7 linked regions of the Homo sapiens genome follow. The protein of the gene in region 3 purifies or fractionates together with the protein of the main gene of each other region. This does not show direct contact. Each region holds a gene or a part of one and is shown on either strand. Other genes may lie near its edges.

Region 1 (3,500 bases), on a different chromosome or scaffold from region 3:
CGAGACCAGCCTGAACAACATGGCGAAAGCCTGTCTCTACAAAAAAAATACAAAAATTAGCCAGGTGTGGTGGCACATGCCTGTAACCCCAGCTACTCAGGGGGCTGAAGTGGGTGGATTGCTTGAGCCTGGGAGGCAGAGGTTGTAGTGAGCCGAGATCGGTCCACTGCATCCAGCCTGGGTGACAAAACTAGACTCTGTCTCAAAAAATACAAATATAAAAGAGCCAAAACAAAAAATGGGGTTTGTACTTATACATTATATTTTTCCTTTTATGAGGTCGCCTGGTCACAGCATGAACTGAAGAATGTAACATCGGGTGCTCCCATCATGCTTTCTGTCCTGATAATGTTTGCTGTACATCTCTGCTTAGGCACTCACATCTCATAATTATTCCAAAATATAATGTTTTGCTTAAAAAAAATGCTCATTTCACGTAAAAAAATCCCCCAAATATGCTGCAAATGTTACTGTCCATCTGTGCATATTTGCAGGTGTCAAACAACTGGTGAGTGCTGACAATGCATTATTATGTACCTAGATGATTCAGGGATAATTTATTAGTAATATTTCCCCAATTTATGATTATCTAAAGTATGCACTTACAAATGTGCAATACCATTTCAGCCATTAATGGCAAAGTTAGCCAAATAAATGATCATTTATCAAAACCCAGAAACCGACACAGGCACAATCTACTTAACATTTCAAAATTAAGTTACCACTAATAGAAGCATTACAATTTTTCCACTGGATTATAATGGGAAATCATGGTTTATGTAAGTTTTGGCCTATGAAAAAAACATTTTATAATCACTTATAAAACACATTTTGTTTTTTGTTTTTTAGGGACAGGATAGGGTCTTGTTCTGTTGCTCTGGCTGGAGTGCAGTGGCGCAATCACAGCTCGCTGCAACTTCTAACTCCTGGGACCCAATGATCTTCCTGCCTCAGCCTCTTGAGTAGCTAGGACTATAGATGTGCGCTACCACACCTTGCTAATTTTTTTTATTTCACATGTCTTCCTGAAAAAGCCTACTGCTACAGTTAATTTTATGGTACTACATTAAATCATCTTATAAGTTTATAAAACTTCTTTATCAAGGCTTTTGAGAAAAGATCCTATGGCTCACAAGTACTACAGAAGTACAAGCAATGGGGCAATCGGAGCAAGTACAGAAACATTTGTTGTGTACTTAAAAAGCCTTTTCACTATTAAGGCCTACTAATCATCATGATGCCAGTTTTGTTATAAACAGGGAAATACAGGTGATACTGTGATACTGGATACATTATTAGGAATAAATCCAGAAGTGATTTCTGCATATTATAGACACACTCCCTTGAGCTATCTTCACAATCTTATCACACTTAAAATTCTAGGAATTTTAATTTTGTGAAATTCAGCAATTTTAGTTGATAAAACTTAAATGCAAACTCTTAGGACTTGTCATTTGTCATAACTTTATGTAAATACACCTCTTTCTTTTAATAAACACATACTTCAAAATTTTTAACATTTTAATCTATTTAAAATTTATATATTTTTTGGTGCTCAGTATGAGGGAAAGAATCTAGAGTGACTTTCTCCAAATGATCAGGCAACATTATTAATTGGAACAGACAGCCTTCTCTCCACTAATTTAAAATAATACCTTTATCATCTACTAAATTCTTTTAAGATGAATTCTTGCTCTGTTGCCTAGGCTAGTGTGCAGGGCCGCAATCACAGCTTGCTGCCACCTTAACCTCCTGGGCTCAAGCAATCCTCTAGCTTCAGCCTCTCAAGCTGATAGGCGCACACATCACGCCCAACTAATTTTTAATTTTTTTAGAGACAGGGTCCTGGTATGTTGCCCAGGCTAGTCTCAAATCCCTGGCTTCCATCTTGAACTCGCAAAATGTTAGGGTTTCAGGCATGAACCACTGCACCCAGGATAAATTCTTATTTATACTCGGATCTGTTTCTGCCTGCCTATTGCTTTCTATTCATCTCTTTCTTTTTTCCTGCATTGCTACATTTTATTATCATGTCAGTAAACCCATTACTTTTATTTTTCAAATATGTCCAGCCACACTTCCATGTTTATTTTAAAGATAAACTGTTTTACTAAGTTCTCCTACTATTCTATTTGCATTGATTTTTAATTAATTTGCAATAAATTTGTTAACTATGAGGAGTAAAGTCTTCCCAACATCTTTTTTTTTTGGGGGGGGACAGGGTCTTGGTTCTGTCGCCCAGGCTGGAGTGAGGTAGTGCAGTTAGGGCTCACTGCAGCCTCGGCCTCCTGGGCTCAAGTGATCCTCCTGTCTCAGCCTCTTGAGTAGCTAGGACCACAGGTGTCCACCATCATACTCTGCTTATTTTTAAAATTTTTTGGTAGAGATGAAGTTTCACTACGTTGCTCAGGCTGGTCTCAAACTCGTGGGCTCAAGTGATCATCCTGGCTTTGCCTCCCTAAGTGCTGGTACTGTTCTTGTTCTTCTATCTAGCAATAAGATATGTTTTTTCCATTACATGCAACTTTTATGTCCCTGTCTTACATTATTTATCATAGAAGTTGGTCATATTTCTTAGTATGACCAACTTATTTCTTATTATATATTTTGTATACAATTTCTATTTTGCATTACTGTAATCATCTTTTCTCCTCATTACATAATCAATGGATTAGGCTTTAGGACTATTAAATTTTTTTTTTTTTTAAGATGGAGTCTCGCTCTGTCGCCCAAGCTGGAGTGCAGTAGCGTGATCTCGGCTCACTGCAACCTCTGCCTCCCGGGTTCTCCCACCTCAGCCTCCTGAGTAGCTGGGATTACAGGTGCACGCCACCATGCCCGGCTAATTTTTGTATTTTTAGTAGAGATGGGGTTTCACCATGTTGGTTGGCCAGGCTGGTCTCGAACCCCTGACCTCAGGCGATCCGCCTGCCTTGGCCTCCCAAAGTGCTGGGATTACAGGCATGAGCCATCGTGCCCGGCCAGAACTATTGACTTTTGTATATTTAATTTACATTTTGCCTGTGCCTAATTTAAGTTCCTTATTAGTTCTCATTCTTCATGAATAATGCTAATTTCAATATTTATGCTTCTTTTTCATGTGTTCCTGATTTAACTAAAAATTCCAGAATAGGCCGGGCACTGTGGCTCATGCCTATAATCCCAGCACTTTGGGAGGCCAAGGTGGGTGGATCACTTGAGCCCAGGAGTTCCAGACCAGCCTTGGCAACATGGCGAAACCCCGTCCCTACAAAACTAGCTGGTGGTGCTTGCTTGTGATCTCAGCTAATTGGGAGGATGGCCTGAGCTCAGGAGGTAGAGGCTGCAGTGAGCCATGATCACACCACTGCATTCCAGTCTGGGAGACAGAGCAGGACCCTATCTCAAAAAACAAACAAACAATCTTTAGAATGTTTAAAAATTAAGCAAGTAGGCTGGACGCAGTGGCTCACATCTACAATCCCAGCACTTTGGGAGGCCAAGGCAGGTGGATCACTTGA
Region 2 (3,500 bases), on a different chromosome or scaffold from region 3:
TAATAAATAAAGAAATTCTGTATGTAGGCCAGGTGCAGTGGCTCATGCCTCTAATCCCAGCACTTCGGGAGGCCGAGGCGGGTGGATCACTTGAGACATCAGGAGTTCTGAGACCAGCCTGGCCAATGTGGTGAAACCCCGTCTCTACTAAAAATACAAAAATTAGCCAGGCGTGGTGGCAGATGCCTGTAATCCTAGCTACTAGGGAAGCTGAGACAGGAGAATGTGGCAGGCGGAGGTTGCAGTGAGCCGAGACTGGCCACTGCACTCCAGCCTGGGCAACAGAGCGAGACTCCATCTCGGAAAAAAAAAAAAAAAAAAAAGGGCAGGGCACACGGTGGCTCATGCCTGTAATCCCAGCACTTTGGAAGGCCGAGGGGGGCGGATCACCTGAGGTGAGGAGTTCGAGACCATCCTGGCAAACATGGTGAAATCCCGTCTCTACTAAAAATACAAAAATTAGCCGGGAGTGGTGGTAGGCTCCTGTAATCCCAGCTACTCGAGAGGCTGAGGCAAGAGAATCGCTTGAACCCGGGAGGTGGAGGTTGCAGTGAGCTGAGATCATACCATTGCACTCCAGCCTGGGGGACAAGAGCGAGACTTTGTCTCAAAAAAAAAAAAAAAAGAAAGAAAGAAATTCTATGTGTAGATTGCCAAATGAATAAAATATTTAATACAATCTATATTCAAAGTCACTGTTCATAAGGAAAAGATAATGCTTAGTTAGCAAACCACCTCTATGGTAATAATCCCCAATATACTTTCTGCTTTATAAAAGAAGTCTGAATTAGGCTATTTAAGATACAGAACACTGTTAACATCCCAGAAAGTCTCCTCTAGCCCCTTCCCAGTCAATCCCCATTTTCATCTCCGGAAGCAACCACTGATCTGAATTCTATCACCACAGGTTAGTTTTGTCTGTTCTAGAATTTCATATAAATGGTATCATACAGTAGATAACTTTTTATGACCAGCTTCTGCCATGTAGCATAATATGACTGAATGTATCAGTGGTTTATTCATCTTTCTTGCTAAGTAGCATTCCATTATTTATCAATTTCCTTTTTGATGGACATTTGAGGTGTTTCCAGTTTTTGGCTATTACAAATAAAATTAGTATAGGCTGGGTATGGTGGCTCACACTTGTAATCCCAGCACTTTGGGAGGCTGGATGGGAGGATCGCTTGAGCCCAGGAGTTCAAGACCAGCCTAAGCAACATGGTGAAACCCTATCTCTACAAATAAATTAAAAAATTAGCCAGATGTGGTAGCATGTGCCTGTAGTTCGAGCTACTTGGGAGACTGAGGTGGGAGGAACACTTGAACCTGGGAGGTTGAGGCTGCAGTGAGCCGCGATTGTGCCATTGCACTCCAGCCTGGGCCACAGAGTGAGACACTGACTCAAAAAAAAAAAATAATAATAACTCACCACCAACAAATAAAGCTAGTATAAACATTTTTGTACAAGGTTTTTGGTAAATGTATTTTCTCATTTCTCTCGGGTAAGTAACTAGGAGTAGAACTGCCAGATCATAGGATATATGTAGGTTTTCACATATGCTTTTTTTTCCTTTTCAAAAATGTTTTCTTTTCCACACCAGAATAGATCACATATGCTTTTGATTAATTAAAAAATATGAGTTGAAATGAATGTGAGCTGCAGGAAAGGTTGAGATAGCATCTGTTTTCCCCTAGTATCCAGAACAATGTCTGACATAAAGTAGGTGCTCAATAAATATTTGAATAAATGAAATAGAGCAACGTCAAAAAATTAAAAAATGACTTACACCTAATATTTAAGACCACTCTGTAGTCTCTTCCAGTTATGCTGGTTTTTGTTGGGTTTTTTTTCTGTGTTTTTTGTTTTTTTCGAGACAGAGTCTCCCTCTGTCGCCCAGGCTGGAATGCAGTGGCGCCATCTTGGCTCACTGCAACCTCCGCCTCCCGGGTTCAAGCAATTCTCCTGTCTCTGCCTCCCGAGTAGGTGGAATTACAGGCACGTGCCACCGTGTCCGGCTAATTTTTGTATTTTTAGTACAGAACGGGTTTCACGATGTTGGCCAGGTTGGAAATTACGCTGTTTTTGCAGACAATTTTATCTACTCAATTTCACCATGATCATTTTTTCTTTAACAGAATTGTTCTTATATCAGAATCTTACTTGCCAAGCCCCACTTTTTTCTCCTAATATAAAAAAAAGATTTGTTGGCCGGGCGCAGTGGCTGACGCCTGTAATCCCAGCACTTTGGGAGGCCGAAGCGGGCAGATCACGAGGTCAGGAGATCGAGACCATCCTGGCTAACACAGTGAAACCCTGTCTCTACTAAAAATACAAAAAATTAGCCAGGCGTGGTGGCGGGCACCTGTAGTTCCAGCTACTCGGGAAGCTGAGGCAGGAGAATGGTGTGAACTTGGGAGGCGGAGGTTGCAGTGAGTCGAGATCGTGCCACTGCACTCCAGCCTGGGTGACAGAGCGAGACTCCATCTCAAAAAAAATAAAAAGAAAAAAAAGATTTGTCAATTTCCTTTTCCAACCTCACTAATTGTTTTATAGATAAAATACTTTGTTTTGTTCTATCCTCATTCTTTGTTCTTTGAACATTTACTGGACTAAATAATTACAGTATTATCTACTTTTTGGTCCAGTTCTCAATTTTATATTCATTATTAAGGCTACACTTACTATTTCATAATTAATCTATAGATTAACTTGTCTTTAAACTCTGTGTCTATCTGATTCATAAAATTTTCACCTGTAAAAGTAAGGTCACAGGTTAAATTAGGTTTCTGTTTCTAATAATTTACCCACTTTAACATTAACTTTATTCTCAAATTCGTTACATAACCTTAAATGCAAAATAAAATTTATTAAATAATTTACAGAGTCAGCCAAGTGTGGTGGCTCACGCCTGTAATCCCAACACTTTGGGAGGCCAAGGCAGGTGGATCACTTGTGGCCAGGAGTTCGAGACCAGCCTGGCCAACATGGCGAAACCTGGTCTCTACTAAAAATACAAAAATTAGCTGGGCTTGGTAGCACATGCCTGTAATCCCAGCTATTCCAGTGGCTGAGGCAGGAGAATTGCTTGAGCCCAGGAGGCAGAGGTTGCAGGGAGCCGAGATGGTGCCACTGCACTTCAGCCTAGGCAACAGAGTGAGACTCTGTCTCAAAAAAGGAAAAAAAAAAAATTAGAGTCATTATTAAAAAACATTATTTTTGGCCAAGTGTGGTGGCTCATGCCTGTAATCCCAGCACTTTGGGAGACTGAGGTGGGCGGATCATCTGAGGTCGGGAGTTTGAGACCAGCCTGGCCAACATGTTGAAACCCCGTCTCTACTAAAAATACAAAACATTAGCTGGGTGTGGTAGCACATGCCTGTAATCTGAGCTACTTGGGAGGCTGAGGCAGGAGAATTGCTTGAACTCAGAAGGCAGAGGTTGCAGTGAGCCGAGATCGTGCCATTGCTCTCCAGCGTGGGCAACAGAGCAAGACTCCATC
Region 3 (3,500 bases):
AACCTGGTTGAGGAGACAAAAAGACGTTTCTGAATCACCAACTAACCAACTAACAGAAGACAACTTGTGATGAATGGCACAGATGAGCATTGCTAGAGCAGCTCAGAGGTGGAAACTTGCTGAGAATGGGCTGGGCTTAGAGGGTGGAGTGTGAAGGCTTAGCTGAAGCAGCAAGATGGCACACATGGGGACCATGAAGAAGCTGGCCACGAGCAGTGCAGGGCCCAGGATGCTTGGCAGCCGCAAAACAGCTGAAAAAGGAGACAAAGGTCTTCATGTCTGGCACTGAGCTGGTTAGGTTTTCTTCTGTAGGCAGTGGGGAACCTTGGAAGGATTTTGAGGAGAGCACTGTGACTAAGACATTTCTGTTCTAGTGGCATTGTGGTGTAGTGAAAAGGTCACTGGGCTAGGAGTATGAAAACCTGGATTCTAGTCTGGCTCTGCCACTGCTTTGTGTTCTCAGGCATGTTTCTGCCCCTCTTCGAAGTTTAGTTTCCTCATCTATAAAGTGAGGATGATAATAATGTCTACCTCACAGGGTTGTTGTGAGGATTTACTCAGCACATTTTTTGGACTGCTTCCAAAATGCTAGACACTTATTGGGTGCTAGGGATACAGAGGTGAAGGAGACAGACTCTTGGACTCTCTTCCATGGAGCTTAATAAAATAATACATGTAGCTGGGCACAGTACCTGTAATCTCAGCACTTTGGGAGGCTGAGGCAGGAGGACCTCTTGAGGCCAGGAGTTTGAGTCCATCCTGGGCAAATACAGCAAGACCTCATCTCTACTAAAAATAAAAAACAATTAGCCAGTCATAGTGGCTTGCGCCTGTGGTCCCAGCTACTCCAGAGGCTAAGGCAGGAGGATTGCTTGAGCCCAGGAGTTCAGGGCTACAGTGAGCCACTACACTCCAGCCTGGGTGACAGAGTGAGACCCTGTCTCAAAAACAAATAAATAAAAAAGATAAAACATGTAAAAAGCTTGCTTAGCATAGTACGTATAGTAGAGATATTTAGGTGGTATATTTGAGAAATAAAAGGATTGAATACTTTCCATTATCTGCCCCTAAAGAATTAAGAGGTTCCTAAAATTCCTTTCAACCAGCTATTATCAGTCTTTTGTGATTTGTTTTTGTTGCTTGTTTAGAAATATATCCCTTGTTTTACCTCAGATCAAATACTGCTTTTGGAATAAGATCCGAACTTCTTAGTGGGGCATTCAGAGCCTTTTCAAGCTCTGGTTTTTTTTTTTGTTTGTTTGTTTGTTTTTTGAGACAAAGTCTCACTCTATCGCCAGGCTGGAGTGCAGTGGCACGATCTCCCTCAGTGAGCCGATTTCGGCTCACTACAACCTCCATGCCCCAGGTTCAAGCAATTCTCCTCACTCAGTCTCCCAAGTAGCTGGGATTACAGGCACCTGCCACCACACCCAGCTAATTTTTGTATTTTTAGTAGAGACAGGGTTTCCCCATGTTGACCAGGCTGGTCTCAAACTCCTGACCTCAAGTGATCTGGCCATCTTGGCCTCCTAAAGTGCTGGGATTACAGGCATGAGCCACCACATGTGGCTCAAGCTCTGATTCTAATCACCCTTTTTCTTTGTACCACATACTCTTCTTCCACATATCCTATGCCCTGGCAAATGAGGCAGTTTACTGCTCTGTGACTGCCTAATTCCCTGCTGCCTTTACACTCTTATTCCTTTCTCCTGGGATGTTCACCCTGAATTATCAACATGAGAATCAGTTGATTGTCAGAGCAAGGCTTAAAACTCTGGTTTTCGCGGGTCGTGGTGGCTCACACTTGTAATCCCAGCACTCTGGGAAGCTGAAGCGGGCGGATCATGAGGTCAGGAGTTCAAGACCAGCCTGGCCAATATAGTGAACCTGCATCTCTACTAAAAATCCAAAAACTTAGCCGGATGTGGTGGTGCGCACCTGTAGTCCCAGCTACTCAGGAGGCTGAGGCGGAAGAATCGCTTGAACCCGGGAGGTGGAGGTTGCAGCGAGCTGAGATCGCGCCATTGCACTCCAGCAGCCTGGGCGACAGAGTGAGATTCCGTCTAAAAAAGGCCGGGCGTGGTGGCTCATGCCTGTAATCCCAGCACTTTGGGAGGCTGAGGTGGACGGATCACCTGAGGTCAGGAGCTCAAGACCAGCCTGGCCAACGTGGTAAAACCCTGTCTCTACTAAAAATACAAAATTAGCTGGACATGGTGGCGCATGCCTGTAATCTCAGCTACTCAGGAGGCTGAGGCAGGAGAATCACTTGAACCTGGGAGGCGGAGGTTCCAGTGAGCCGAGATCATGCCACTGCACTCCAGCCTGGGCACCAAGAGTGAAACTCCATCTCAAAAAAAAAAAAAAACCTCTGGTTTTCTTTGTTGTTTATGCTCTCTGTAGTTTAGGGGTTAGAAATGGGGGAGGTATGTACCAAGAGTCTGTGGCTGTCCCAGAAGTGTGGATAGAAGTGTGATTACTGAAGTGCTTGCCAGCTTTTGCATTTAGTGATTCTATCCTCCTTTTTTTTTTTTTATTTAAATCTCATTCTGCTTTGATTTCCTTTGTACATATGACTTATAATCCCCATTAGAAATTGAGCTCATGGTGGCAGGGGTTGTATATGTCTTTTTTTTTTTTTTTTTTTTTTTTTTGAGACAGTGTTTCGCTCTTGTTGCCCAGGCTGGAGTGTGATGGCGCTATCTTGGCTTACTGCAACCTCCGCCTCCCGGGTTCAAGCGATTCTTCTGCCTCAGCCTCCCGAGTAGCTGAGATTACAGGCATGCATCACACCTGGCTAATTTTTTATTTTTAGTAGAGACGGGGTTTTTCCATGTTGGTCAGGCTGGTCTTGAACTCCCGACCTCAGGTGATCTGCCTGTCTCAGCCTCCCAAAGTGCTGGGATTACAGACGTGAGCCACCACGCCCGGCCTATATATGTCTTAATTCATCTTTGACTACCTTCCCCCTGTAGGCTGCTGTCTTCGTGGTGCCTAACAAATGTTTGAATAGGCAGCAAATAACTGCAGATTTCTTTTTTCTTTTTCTTTTTTTTTTGAGACGGAGTCTCGCTGTGTCGCCCAGGCTGGAGTGCAGTGGCGGGATCTCGGCTCACTGCAAGCTCCGCCTCCTGGGTTCACGCCATTCTCCTGCCTCAGGCTCCTGAGTAGCTGGGATTACAGGTGCACGCTGCCACACCCAGCCAACTTTTTGTATTTTAGTAGAGACAGGGGTTTCACCGTGTTGCCCAGGCTGGCCTTGAACTCCTGAGGTCAGGTAATCCGCCCACCTCGGCCTCCCAAAGTGCTGGGGTTACAGGCGTGAGCCACCGCACCCAGTCCTGCAGGTTTCATCTCTAGGCAGTAAAGCCCTCACCCTAGAGTACATGCTTCAGCTCTGTCACATTTTGAAATACAAAGTTGGGACAAATTTAATATGTCTGAACCTGTTGTAAAGCTATCCTGGTGAAGTTTGAGTTGTTCCTGGAGAATTGCAGGAC
Region 4 (3,500 bases), on a different chromosome or scaffold from region 3:
ACATTCAGGATTGACATACTCTTAGAGATAGACTTTTGGGACCATCTAATTTTTTTAGCTCTTTCCAAGTTACTTTACTATGCCCTAAGATATTAGGGTAAAGTATTATAAGCCTTCACTTATTAACTTTGATAATCTTTATTTTGTATGCCCTGATTGATGCCTTACATTTTCATTAAAACTAACAGAAAGGGGACAGAAATAAGAATTTGAATGAAAATAGTTGCTTTTATGTCTTTGGTTCTGTTGTTTCATACTTTTCCCATCATTTTTTTAAATCCCATAATATAATATAAATATTATAAAGAGCAGTCACCTATAGTAGTGATGTCTAGTAAACATAGATTGTAATGCACAGATATAGTTTATATTTTTCAAGTAAACATGTTTAAAGAAAGTAAAAAGAAATAGATGAAATATTTTACTTAATCTATTATATAAAAATACTATTTCAATATATAATTACTCTAAACATTATTAATATAATAATTCACAATAATTTTCTTATACTGAATCTGAAATCTAGTTCAAATTTCACATTTGTAACCCATGTCACTTTAGATTGGCCCCATTTCTAAAGCAACATGTGGCCAGCAGCTAGCATATTTGACAATGCTTACCCAGGGAGTCAATCCCATAATTCCAAGGGTAGTAGGGGTGATAAACCTGATTTGTTTAAATTACTTTGATAAGGGGTTGGGTGCGGTGGCTCACTCCTGTAATCCCAGCACTTTGGGAGGTCGAGGCAGGTAGAGCCCCTGAGGTCAGGAGTTTGAGAACAGTCTGGCCAATGTGGTGAAACAACATCTCTACTAAAAATACAAAAATTAGCTCGGTTTGGTGGCGGGTGTCTATAATCCCAGCTACTTGGGAGGCTGAGGCAGGAGAATCACTTGAATCCGGGAGGCAGAGGTTGCAGTGAGCCGAGATCGCACCATTGCACTCCAGCCTGGGCGACAGAGCAAAACTCGGTCTCAAAAATAAAAATAAAATAAAATAAAAATAAATAAATAAAAATTACTTTGATAAGAGGTTCACATATTCTTACTGCAGGACTGCATAAGAAATATTTAACAGGATACATTTCTGTTTGTTGCACAGTTGAATTTTTATTGTTCATTGTGAATTTACATGCTGCTATACAATGGTAGTACTTTTCTAGGAAGCATTAAGAATTCACTTACAGGTTTATTGGAAAAGAAATTGTCGCATTGCTCTTTATATTCTGAAATAATTGTGTGTTACTTTTCTTTCTACAGTTGTAGAACCAGAATGTGAACAAAGTTCTGCCACCACCTATTACTGGTACAGGGAAGCACTGAATATTTCAAGTTCCATTTCTGAAAGTGGGGGCTTAAACTGGAAGATGACCATCTGCTTGTTGGCTGCCTGGGTCATGGTTTGCTTGGCTATGATCAAAGGCATTCAGTCTTCTGGAAAAGTTAGTATGTTAGAGCCCTTCCTCATTCTGCTAATCACCATTTCTGGATTCATCCCTCTCTCAAATTCTGTTACAGATTTCTGTGGGCAAATCACACATAACACTTCATTCTAGGTAGTTAAATATTAGTGAAAAGTGACACTTCAAAAGTGTGCTTACATTTTTAAAAAGACAAATAAAAACAGTGTTTTATAGTGAAATCTAAGGTTAATTATAATCTTTCCTTATTTCAACAAGATCTTTAAAATTTTTGTGAATACTTAAAAGTCCTTTCTTTTTGCCCTTTATTCAATTAGTCCTAATGTTTCAGTTCTCTAATTACCAATTAGTTAAATTATGGAAATTGGGGAAAGTGGTAAAATGAGTAATTCATTCATTTTGTTTGTTTGATATCATTTGTTTCTCTCTGCTGTAGGTGTTCTAAGGAATAGCTGCATAAGACATTTTGAAATAATGTAATGTGAAGTGTTTCTTAAAGCTCTGAACATCATTAAGTAGTTAATAATAATTCCAACAAGGAATTCAGAGTAATGTAAAAGACTAAATATCATTCCTTCTAAGGCAAATTGAAAATTAGAATGGTTGTGGTTTAAAAAGACATTAAGTGAATTCTAGGTAGCTTGTTTGTTATTATTTTTAAAGGACGCTCTAGGAAAGTAATTGCTATTCACTATTTTGCTTTCGTATTACTTTTTTTTTTTTTTTTTCATTATCACAGCCATTGTTCTAAAGCTCTCCACATCTCTTGGCTGGATCATAGCAAGAATTTACTGTTGGCTCTTCTCTCTGCCGTTTAACTGTCCAGCTGTGCTATTTTCCTTTTCAAAGTATAACTGATTTCAGGCTAACTTATTACCACTCATCATCATATACTAGCAGGAATGGCAATAGTAGTAGTAGTAGCAGCAGCAATAGTAGAAGTAGTCATAATAACAATAATAATAAATGATGATAAAGATGTTTCTGACAAGAATTAGGGTAAGAACAGTAATTGAAGCCAATTATTTATTACAAATGTATTTTGCTTTGGGTACTGTGATAACTACTTTTTATACTTTATCCCATTTAATTATAAAAACCACTCTTGAGAAGTAATTTTTATTTTCAGAACCATTTTACAGATTTAAAATAAACAGGTTTGAGGAATTAGTTTAACTTATCCAAAGTTTCGTGGCTATTAAGTTCTAGTATTTGGAGTCAAATGCAAGTCTGTCTAAATCTAGAGCCCATGTTCTTTAACTGCAACACTATAATGTCTCACCCCGTCCTAGTCCCACCAATTAGTCAACTCTTTTAGGGCAGAAGTCTGTCTAATTCATCTTTGCTTCCTGTTACTTTATATTTAATTAAAAATTTTAGTGACTTTTTAACTTGTAAATTGTAGCTGATTTTACATTTATCTTCCTGAAGGAAACTCTGTATCATTTTGTCTTTTGAATTTGTGAATATACTTGTTAACACATCTAAATATCTTTAAGTCTTTGGCAATGTTATTGTATTATATGACTAAATAACTTCGAATTGTTCAATTGTGTATGTCTTCCACTATGTCAGAGCCACATTCCCGTCACATTATAAATGAAGGAGTGGATTCTTAAATAAGACCTAACCATATTTATATGATTCCTAACATAATATCATTTGGTAGAAAGAAAACCAACTGTGGTCATCCAGAGAAGCTCAAAAACTCTTGTACTCAGGTTCTCTTACTACCACGTTTTGTTTCTGTTTCTTCTTAGTCTGTGTCTTAGCATCACTTAAAGAACTATTCATCCTTTTCTTATCACAGAATCTTGGGGTTGTTCTTCTCATGTCATGTAGTGTAAATTTATATAGAAAATGTAATACAATTTATTTAGTACATACATTTATTATTTTAATGAGAATGCCTCAGGAAAAGACTAGTATTTGGGCAATATTTGAAGAAAGAATTTAACAGGCACTGATGGGGAGAAAGCTAGCTGTAGGTAATGTGAGCAAAGATGTGGAAGCCAAAATTGTCACAATTCCTCAATCTGAAACAATGAGTTAAATATAATAACAATGACTTTATGAGGAA
Region 5 (3,500 bases), on a different chromosome or scaffold from region 3:
CCTGCCTCAGCCTCCCCAGTAGCTGGGACTATAGGCGCCCGCCACCACGCCCAGCTAATTTTTTGTATTTTTAGTAGAGACGGGGTTTCACCGTGTTACCCAGGATGGTCTCAATCTCCTGACCTCGTGATCTGCTCACCTCGGCCTCCCAAAGTGCTGGGATTACAGGCGTGAGCCACTGCCCTTGGCCACAGTTATATTTTTTAACTATTAGACTTCCCTCCCACTTAGATACACATAAGACCTTAAGGAATATATGTAGATACACACTTTTCTATTTTCCCATTTAATATTTTCTACCAAAACTTTATCATCTGGGTACAGGTAAATCTTAACCGGTCTCATTTTAAAGCAAAAATGATGTTTATGACATCACTAACATAAAATTATATAATTTATTCCTTGTTAAAGTATTTTTTTCAAGTGTGAAAGCTGCACAACAGATCTAAATTCAACCTACTATAATTTTAATTTCCCATAACCTAGAAATATTTAAATTCAATTCATATCCTGTAGTGAGGTCATAATCTGAGGCTTGTGATATGTTTAGGATATGGGAAAGATGTTATCATAAGTGGAGCATAATGTTTCATTTATTTATTTATTTATTTTTTGAGACAGAGTCTCGCTCTGTCACCCAGGCTGGAGTACAATGGTGTGATCTTGGCTCACTGCAACCTCCGCCTCCCAGGTTAAAGCATTTCTCCTGCCTCGGCCTTCCAAGTAGCTGGGATTACAGACATGTGCCACCATACCGGGCTAAGTTTTGTATTTTTAGTAGAGATGGGGTTTCACCATGTTGGCCAGGCTGGTCTCGAACTCCTGACCTCAAGTGATCCACCGGTCTCGGCCTCCCAAAATGCTGGGATTACAGGCATGAGCCACTACACCTGCCTTTTTTTTTAGACCAAGTCTCACTCTATCACCCAGGCTGGACTGCCATGGCACCATCTCGGCTCACTGCTACCTCCAACTCCCTGGTTCAAGTGATTCTACTGCCTCGGCCTCCTGAGTAGCTGGGATTACAGGTGCCTGCCACCACACCCAGGTCATTTTTTTGTAGTTTTAATAGAGATGGGGGTTCACCATGTTGGCCAGGCTGGTCTCGAACTCCAGACCTCAGGTGATCCACCCGCCTCAGCCTCCCAAAGTAGTGGGATTACAGGTGTGAGTCACTGTGCCTGGCCACTTTTTTTTTTTTTTTTTTTTTTGAGACAGTCTCACTCCGTCACCCAGACTGCCAGGCTGGAGTGCAGTGGCACAATCTCAGCTCACTGCAACCTCTGTTACCCAGGTTCAAGCAATTCTCAAGTCTCAGCCTCCCAGGTAGCTGGGATTACAGGCCTGTGCCACCACGCTCAGGTAATTTTCTGTATTTTTACTACAGACAGGGTTTCACCATGTTGGCCAGGCTGGTCTTGAACTCCTGACCTCAGGTGACCCACCTGCCTCGACCTGCCAAAGTGCTGGGATTACACACATAAGCCACTGCACCCAGCAGAGTATTATGCTTTGATTGCAGACATATCAAGATAATGACACTTTTCTTTTTTTTCGACAGGGTCTCTGTCACCCAGGCTGGACTGCAGTGGTGTGATCATAGTTTACTGCAGCCTTGACTTCTGGGGCTCAACTGATCCTCCCACCTCAGCCTCTCAAATAGCCAGGACTACAGGCTGCACCATCACACCCAGCTAATTAAAAAAAAAATTTTTTTTTGTAGAGACAGGTCTCATTTTGTTGCCCAGGCTGGTCTTGAACCCCAGAGCTCGAGTGATCCTCCCGCCTAGCCTCCCAGTGCTGGGATCACAGGCGTGAGCCACCACGCAGCCCCCACTGTGACTGACACTTGTGCCCGGTTGCCTAGGAGTGTGCAACATCAGATCTGGGGGCACGTGCTTTATTAAGAGTTCAGAACTGGGGCCAGGCGCGGTGGCTCATGCCTGTAATCCCAGCACTTTGGGAGTCCAAGGCGGGCAGATCACAAGATCAGGAGATTGAGACCATCCTGGCTGACGCGGTGAACCCTGTCTCTACTAAAAATACAAAAAATTAGCCAGGCGTGGTGGCGGGCGTCTGTAGTCCCAGCTACTGGGGAGGCTGAGGCAGGAGAATGGCTGAACTCGGGAGGTGGAGCTTGCAGTGAGCCAAGATCGTGCCACTGCACTTCAGCCTGGGCAACAGAGCGAGACTCCGTCTCAAAAAAAAAAAAAAAAAAAAGAGTTCAGAACTGGAAAAGGCATTCAAAATGTAAGGCAGAAAAAGCCACTAAGAAAGTTAATTACCTAACAAGTTGAAAATTATAACAGATCATGACATAACAGTCATCAGAAAATTTGTCAACAGTAACAATACTTTTCCATACTTTTACCCCAGCGTAAAAAGAGTTATTTTAACATAGTTTCAGATTTCCTATTTCCAACCCATAGTTTTAAAAACATCTTTTATTATCTCCACTCAACTACAGAATTACTTATAGGTGCTTATCCCACCTTTCTGCTTCCTCCAAGTTATTTTTTAATTGCGTCAAATTTGGAATTCATCAAACTTAAAATAGGACATTTACTGTACACCATATTAAAGCCTTTTCCAACAGTATAAAACTGAAAACTGTTAAATACAATTGGCTACTTATTAGAATAATTATCAATATCAAGCAAACATTTCATTTTCCCTCCCAAACCCCCCAAAACAAAGATAATTAGAATAATGATCAGTTTTGGGCAAACATCTCGTTCTCCTTCCCAACTCTCCCAAAACAAAGATAATCAGCATCCAATTTTTTCCCCACAATTTAGTACTAAGAGATCAACACTGCCATGAATTGGGCTTGTTTTTCTGTGCTGGATCAGCAGCTCCAAGTGGAGAATGCAAGCACTGCATTTCACTAACCTCGCCAAGAAAAGGCTGGCACATGCATTCATCATCATCTAAACCAAGCCCAGGTAAAGAAACAGAATACAATAAAATTTACAGTAAGATTTTCCACAAAATAAAATTGACCTTTGTTTCAAAGAACATAATTCTGAAAGGCTAGGAAAAGCAAAACTGAAACGGCCTCTCATGACTTTAAGAATGAACTTATTGAGCAAGGCTCACCCAAGGGTTTATATACATATTGCTAGACAGATAGTCAGACATTAAAAACCTACATTTTTGGCCAGGCATCATGGCTCACGCCTGTAATCCCAGCACTTTGGGAGGCTGAGGCGGGCGGATCACCTGAGGTCAGGAGTTCAAGACCAGCCTGGACAACATGGTGAAACCCCATCTCTATTAAAAATATAAAAAATTAGGCCAGGCACAGTAGCTCACACCTGTAATCCCAGCACTTTGGGAGGCCAAGGCAAGCAGATCATGAGGTCAAGAGATCGAGACCATCCTGGCCAACATGAACATAGTGAACCCATGCCTCTACTAAAAAATATACAAAAATTAGCTGGGCATGGTGGCGCATGCCTGTAGTCCCAGCTACCCAGGAGGCTGAGGCAGGAGAATCG
Region 6 (3,500 bases), on a different chromosome or scaffold from region 3:
TCCTGAGTAGCTGGGACTACATGTGTGTGCCACTACACCTGGCTAATTTTGCACGGGATAGGGATGGAGGCCTGGCTATGTTGCCCAGACTGGTCTCAAACTCCTGGCCTTAAGTGATCCTCCCACCTTGGCCTCCCAAAGCACTGGGATTACAGGCATGAGCAACTGGGCCCAGCCTCTTGTTCTTTTAATTTCAGAAGTTGACACTGTGATTCTGAGATATTGTCTACTCTAAGAGCCTATAGCCCTTTACATACTTACAATAGATGACCCAATGAATGATGTCACCTTTTGTTTACAGCTGTTGTTCTCTGGGATTTCATAATAACATTGCTAGGCAAATGAGAAAATACCAGATCTTTAAAAATGAAAAGGAACCTGGAGTAAAAATTAAGTGATAATCTCCACCATCCCAGTATCACCATGCTGGGACTATCATTTCACCCTAAACAAATGCAAAGGTATGACACAACTACATAGGATGCAGAGCCACATTCCTGTTAGGCAACTCTGACAAAAAAGATTCAAGTGGCTCTACCTGCTCCAGAATTACTAAGACACTTTTTTCCTGGAAACCTTGGTACTGTCATTTTAAATAATTGTTAGGTATAGAAATACACAGAATTATCAAAAGTTAACTCTCCCTCCCACAAAGTGGTTAATTTTACATATAAAATAAAACAGCCGTCAAAATGTAAACCTTGCTATACTTAATGTGTCTGTAATAAATCATGAGATCAGGCAGCCCTCTGCTAGGACTGGCATAAGGAACAAATCAAAACACAGATTGCTCTGTATTTGTTTCTACTGCTGCTCTACCACAAAGTTAGAGGCTTAAAAGAACACAGATTTTTTTCTCCTACAGTTCTGGAGGTCAGAAGTCCAAAATGGATCTCTCTGAGCTAAACATCACAGTGTCAGGAGGACTGTGCTCCTTTCTGGAGGCTCCACGGGAGAGCTCATTCCCTTGCCTCCTCCAGATTCTGGAGACTGTGTGCATTCCTTGGCTTGTGGCCTCCTTCCATTTTCAAAGCCAGCAATGGATGTTTGAGTTTTTCCAATAATGTCAACTCTCCTGCTGTGACTCTTCTGCTTCCCTTTTCCACTCAGAAGGTCCTTGTGATTACACTGGGCTCACCCAGATGACCCAGGATAATCTTAATGTCAACATCAGCTGGTCAGCACCCTTAACTCCATCTGCAACCTGAATTCCCCCTTCCGTGCAGGATGAGTGAGAATCCCTTATCTGAAATGCTTGGGACCAGAAGTCTTTTGGATTTTTTTTTGAATTTTGGAATATTGTCATTACTTTTCATATACATCTTATATGCAGATTGAAGGTAATTTTGTATGTTCTAAATAATTTTGTGCATGAAACAAAGTTTTGACTGTTTTAACTACGACCCATCATGTGACGTTAGGTGTGGAATTTTTCATTTATGGTGTCACATTGGCACTCAAAAAGTTTCAGATTTTGGAGCATTTTGGATTTTCAGACTAGGAATGTTCAAGCTGTGTAACACAACAGATTCATAGGTTCTGGGAATTAGGATGTGAACATCTTTGGGGAGCCATTATTCTGCTTACTACCATCTCCAACAGTAATTAGAAAACAAAGCAACCTCAAGTGTACAAGCTACTCTCCTCCGATAAAGATTTTTAACTATTTTAATTTACAACAAATGAAAACCCTAAAGCTAAAAAAATAAAAAGAATGCTGTTAGGACAGGAGGCCTGAGATTGCTGCTAGTCTTGCTCAGCTGAGTGTGCTGAGTGGGGGATGGGAGAATGCATGCTTCCTTCCCGGATCATCACCAGGGTCGACCATGCACTCAGAAGCTTTTACAGGGAAATGCTTGATAACACTATAGTGAAAATTAGTATCAACGTCTTTTTTCTTTTTTGAGAAAGGATCTCACTCTGTCGCCCAGGCTGGAGTGCTGTGGTGCAATCTTGGCTCACTGCAGCCTCAGCCTCCCAGGATAAAGCAAACCTCCCACATCTGCCTCCCAAATAGCTGGGACTTCAGGTGTGCACCACTACACCTGGCTAATTTTTGTGTTTTTTGTAGAGGAGGGGTTGCATCATGTTGCCTGGGCTGGTCTCAAACTCCTGGACTCAAGCTATCCACCCGCCTTGGCCTCCCAAAGTGCTGGGACTACAGGCATGAGCCACAGTACCCAGTCTATCAATGTCTTTCAATAGCAATATTGAAATATATAATCTAGTTGTAATCCTCCACATGGTAAACCAAGGAGTTGATCATATGTTTGAACAGGTGCAATTTTTTTCTTTGGCAAAATTGCATACACAAAGACACAAATAGGGCCCAAACTGTGAGAAACATGCTAGATTCCACAAGCAACAGTGCAGTGATTAGACTCTGCAGTCAAGCTGCCTGCTTTCAAAATCTAATTCAACTATTTACCACCTGTGTGGCCTTAAGTACGTGACTTAACCCCCCTGTGTTTCAAGTAGGATCCTTAAAGTGAATTTTAGGAGTAAATGAGTAACAGTTTTAAGTACTTAGAACAAACCCTGACACATAGTGAATATAAGTATTTGTTAAATAAACTTTTAAATGCTCCTGCTTGCTGCTTATAACTTGCCAATGAAACTATATTTCAAGGGAGCAAACTTCTCAGCCCTAGCTAATTTACCATATGGCATATATTTTATATATACGTAAATATATTCAATGACATTCATGCAGAAGAACTGGTATATTACACTAACCAAAACAATACCCTTTGTTGCTATGAAAGTTTGGTAGCAACTACTGGGGTAGTAATAACTGGGTGGTTCAACAACTCGCTGAACAAATGCAAATATCAGAAGACAGTAGCAGCTGTGTTAAATAAACTGTCTCAGGGCCTCCTAAAGAAAGACGCACAGCACTGGCGAGGACAGTAGGGTTTGTGATTCTTAGTGGCCCGGGCACTTTCTGGGACAGTGGTGTTCATGGTACAATACTCCCCAGAAGCCTAAGCTCTGTGAGGGACAGTACCAGTTGTGCTAGACTACCGCTACCAGCATCTGCTAAGAGGGCAGGCATATTGTGACTGTGGCTTGAAAAGCTTTTCAGCATTCACAGCTGATGTTATACACTTCTTATGAAAGTTCTTGAATTCAATGGCAGTGTACAACCAACTTCAATCATTTTATTTTAACCCCAAAGGAAACGGGGAGGGAAAAATATGGGACAGGCTCCAGCTCCTATTAGCACAGCCAAGATGTAACACTTGAATGTGGATATACCATTCCAAAAGATACATGCCACCTTAACGAGAAAGAATGGTTCCATTTGACACAACGGGACTGAACTCTTTGTTTTAAAAGTTAGAAGTGCAGCTTATATGCAGAAAATAATGATTGCTGAGCCCTTGAATATTTACCATGAAGCAGGCATTACTCTCAATGTTTTATACACAGGGAGCCATGTAATTCGTATAGTCACCTTATGGGGTAAATATTATTTTACTCCCATTATACAGCCAAGA
Region 7 (3,500 bases), on a different chromosome or scaffold from region 3:
CAGTGGTGCGATCATAGCTCATTAAAAAAATTATTTATTTTTTATTTTTTGAGATAAGATCTTTGTCACCCGGGCTGAGTGCAGTGGTGTGATCATGGTTCACCGCAGCCTCCACATCCTGGGTTCAAGCGATCCACCTATCTTAGCCTCCCAAGTAGCTGGGACTACAGGCGTGTACTACCACGTGTAGCTAATTTTTAAGTTTTCTGTAGAGACGGTGTCTTCCTATGTTGCCCAGGCTAGTCTCAAACTTTTGGGGGCCTCAAGCGATCCTCAAAGTGCTGGGATTACAGGTGTGAGCCACCATGCCTGGCCTTCCTAGGGTATTGATTCAATTTTATTTTACAGATGGCTAAAGAAATTATAGTTTATGAGTTTTCATTACCAAACGTTTATTGAATTTCCATGTCCTTGGTAAAGGCAAAATTAGAATGATAGCATTCTCATTTTAAGAGTTTATTTTCTTTAACATTGGGTAACCTTAATCTCTCCATCCTGAGATGATTAATTTAAGCTTAAAATCTTGAAAACCATCTTGTCAGATGGAAAAGCTGTAGCATACCAATTCATTGACAGAGTTACATGGGACCTTTTATCTTTGGTATTCCCTCCACCAAAACTTCCCCACGAAAAAATTCCCATCAAAGTCTAGCCATGCATATGTTGGTATCCATAACACATTAAAATAGTACTGTCTTCTGCATGTTTTAAAATGTTATCAAATATCAAATGTTATCAAATGATACCATATGTATCATTTTGTGACTTAGTGATTTTGGTGAACATTGTTTTGTAGATATACCTGTTTTGATTCTAGATAATTTATTTTAATAGCTATATAGTATGCATATGCCACAGTTTATTGGTTTTGTTGATCAATTTGTTCTTTCTTGCTTTTTGCTATTGGGAATATTTGTGTGTATGCTCTAGAGTTTATCTAGGGCAGTGTTGCTAAAATTGCAGGACTTGTTAGTGATCTGGAAATTAGTGGGCTGAGATCAGCATTTTCTTTTAAAATGAAATTGAACAAGATAAAATAGGATAGAGTAGGGTAGAATAAAATAGCATAAAGTAGAAAAATGGAAAAGATATCAAGCATCTCATGTAGGAGGAGTAAGAATTATTTTGTGAAATTTCAGTTATATATACATATATAACTGAATATATATATATATATATATATATATATATATATATATATATATATCATGAATCCTTTGCTCACTTTTGAATTGTGTCGTTTGTTTTATTCTTACTGATTTGCAGGCATTCTTTATATATTTTGTGTATGGATCCTTTCCAAGCTGTCCATTATGCATGTTACAAATATCTTCCCCCATTCTGTGGCATATTTTTCCTTTTGTTCAAGTTTACTGCTCTTTTCTTTGTGTTTTATGCTTTCCTGTCTTATGTATGAAATCTTTAACTGCTCTGAGGTCATAAATATATTTCTATACTTCTAAAAGTTTGAAAGTTTTGCTTTTTTTTACATTTCCACATGGATTCTCTTTTATTTTCCATATGGAAATACTATAGATTAAATTCTCCTTAGTGTGCATTTTTTCATGTGTTTCAGTGTCCAAATTGTTGAAACCCTCTCCTGAAGCTTATAAAGTATGATATTCTAAAGTTACATTTTATAACTTTAGTATTTTTATAATAGAGCATCTCTGCTGCTGACTTTTTAATAGTAGATAGCACAGATACAATTTTTAAGCTGTATTTTTCTCAGATAAAGAATGGATTGTTAAATGTGCAAGACAGTATATTCTTTTCCTTCTGTTTTTCTCTAATAGAATTTATTTGTGTATTTATATTTCCAGTCACATTAACTTTGCTCTAGAAGACAACTTTACAAGGATCTAAAAGGAACAGGATTAAAGATGACTGAATACTGGGTTCCAGAAATTTAAAACAATCAGGTACAAAAGTTTTTGGAGGGAATGCTCCCAGCCAGTCAGTATAAAATAGAACTGTTGAGAATGTACACAAGAAAAACTTAAAGTATCTAGCCCTGAAATACAGTGGAGGGTCCCAAAACAAGGGCTTTGGAATAGTCCTGGTTCAAATACTGGCTCTGACACTGATTGGTTGGTGACTATTGGTCACGTTACTGAAATGTGTGAATAAAATGGAGGCAATGATTAACCTGTTTCATTTGGATATTATAAAGATTAAATAAGGTGAGGCACTTAGTGCCTGGCACAGAATAACTTTATTTTTACTGTTGTTATTGCTGTTGTTATTTAGAATACATTTTATCACATCATGGATATGGCTTTCTGTATGTATATTGTGAATTGTTATTTTAAGTATATATATCAACATATTGTTAATAGCCTGGTGAAATCACATGGATAACAGGGTAAGGTAATCTCCACGTGTAGTGCACAAACTATACATGCAAATTGGGGATGATAGTTTTCTTTATTATGTATGCATCACATTGAAATAATGTAAAAAAAAAAGCCAACCATCTCCCACAATGCTAAAAAATTCAAAACACTTTTTAATAGTATTATACAATAGTAATTAATCTTGATTTATTTTTAAATCTTGAAGGACTTTCTGATTGACAAATATGAAATTATGTTAATCTTACATTTCATTCAATTTGAATCCTGCATGTCATTTCTTTGAATGTGGTAATTTCCATGACATACATACAATTATGTCTTAACCTGATGTCAGATAAACAGAATGGCCTGTTTTCCTACCATTCTAATTTTAAAGAGTTTAATTTTACTTGAAATTGATAAAAGACACTGAAAAGAGGTTATTTCCTACTCAAAAGCCCAGGATCGGTTTTTCATGATTTTAGCACATTAGGAAGATTTCCCTTCTGCTAGGAACGAAAGGGGGCCTAGGGTAGTGCAGTGAGGGGCAGTCACATCTCTACTTGGTCCCTTCTTTTTTCTCTTCTCTCCCTCTTTCTTCTCCTCTCCTTTTATTTTTTATTCCAGTAAACTTGGGGCAAATATGGAAAAAGTGTTTCCTGATAGGGTGAGGCAGAAGGAGAGGGAACTTTGGTTACAGGCCAGTTCCAGTATACAAAAAGCTGGGTTCTAAGGATGCTTTGTATGAATACGTTGCGTTTTACTCTGAGCCATGGGCTGTGGGTTATAGCAATGAAGGAATCGTCTGCCCTTTTGAAGAACTTACCAATTAATAGAGAAGGTACATCATACAAGAATAACTGTCATATGAGGCAGAATTTGAAAAATGCCTTCAATGTAGTTAAAAACAAAACAAAAAGTGCTGTGGAAATACAGAGAAGAGGTCCCAGCCCATTTGGGTAATCAGGATCCACATTGATGTAAATCTCAGTGGCAGTCATGCTGGGTCTTAGAGAAAATTAGGATTTTAACAGATCTGCTAAGATGCCATAGATAATATGTAGTAAGTATTAATTAAAATGACAGAATATCTTTCCATATTGTCAATCAGATCGGTTTATAAATTTTTAAGTGAGAAACTTCTAAGTAATCTTCTAAAAAGCA

The links.
Region 1: the proteins of KIF2C (region 3) and LSM14A purify together in Homo sapiens (affinity purification with mass spectrometry; one large-scale study listed by BioGRID and IntAct). This does not show direct contact.
Region 2: the proteins of KIF2C (region 3) and SAR1B purify together in Homo sapiens (affinity purification with mass spectrometry; one large-scale study listed by BioGRID and IntAct). This does not show direct contact.
Region 4: the proteins of KIF2C (region 3) and SLC6A15 purify together in Homo sapiens (affinity purification with mass spectrometry; one large-scale study listed by BioGRID and IntAct). This does not show direct contact.
Region 5: the proteins of KIF2C (region 3) and HABP4 purify together in Homo sapiens (affinity purification with mass spectrometry; one large-scale study listed by BioGRID and IntAct). This does not show direct contact.
Region 6: the proteins of KIF2C (region 3) and SGMS2 purify together in Homo sapiens (affinity purification with mass spectrometry; one large-scale study listed by BioGRID and IntAct). This does not show direct contact.
Region 7: the proteins of KIF2C (region 3) and RCBTB2 purify together in Homo sapiens (affinity purification with mass spectrometry; one large-scale study listed by BioGRID and IntAct). This does not show direct contact.

The regions. Positions count from the first base shown.
Region 1 is NC_000019.10:34,210,504-34,214,003, reverse strand, and holds part of LSM14A (protein LSM14 homolog A), read right to left. Parts: intron 1-3,500. UniProt on the Homo sapiens protein: Essential for formation of P-bodies, cytoplasmic structures that provide storage sites for translationally inactive mRNAs and protect them from degradation. Acts as a repressor of mRNA translation. May play a role in mitotic spindle assembly.
Region 2 is NC_000005.10:134,615,829-134,619,328, forward strand, and holds part of SAR1B (small COPII coat GTPase SAR1B), read right to left. Parts: intron 1-3,500. UniProt on the Homo sapiens protein: Small GTPase that cycles between an active GTP-bound and an inactive GDP-bound state and mainly functions in vesicle-mediated endoplasmic reticulum (ER) to Golgi transport.
Region 3 is NC_000001.11:44,742,837-44,746,336, forward strand, and holds part of KIF2C (kinesin-like protein KIF2C), read left to right. Parts: intron 1-3,500. UniProt on the Homo sapiens protein: In complex with KIF18B, constitutes the major microtubule plus-end depolymerizing activity in mitotic cells. Regulates the turnover of microtubules at the kinetochore and functions in chromosome segregation during mitosis.
Region 4 is NC_000012.12:84,881,800-84,885,299, reverse strand, and holds part of SLC6A15 (sodium-dependent neutral amino acid transporter B(0)AT2), read left to right. Parts: intron 1-1,259; coding exon 1,260-1,441; coding exon of another isoform or gene 1,442-1,555; exon of another isoform or gene 1,556-3,500.
Region 5 is NC_000009.12:96,453,169-96,456,668, reverse strand, and holds part of HABP4 (intracellular hyaluronan-binding protein 4), read right to left. Parts: intron 1-3,500. UniProt on the Homo sapiens protein: Ribosome-binding protein that promotes ribosome hibernation, a process during which ribosomes are stabilized in an inactive state and preserved from proteasomal degradation.
Region 6 is NC_000004.12:107,831,432-107,834,931, reverse strand, and holds part of SGMS2 (phosphatidylcholine:ceramide cholinephosphotransferase 2), read right to left. Parts: intron 1-3,500. UniProt on the Homo sapiens protein: Sphingomyelin synthase that primarily contributes to sphingomyelin synthesis and homeostasis at the plasma membrane.
Region 7 is NC_000013.11:48,523,081-48,526,580, reverse strand, and holds part of RCBTB2 (RCC1 and BTB domain-containing protein 2), read left to right. Parts: intron 1-1,823; 5' UTR 1,824-1,922; intron 1,923-3,500.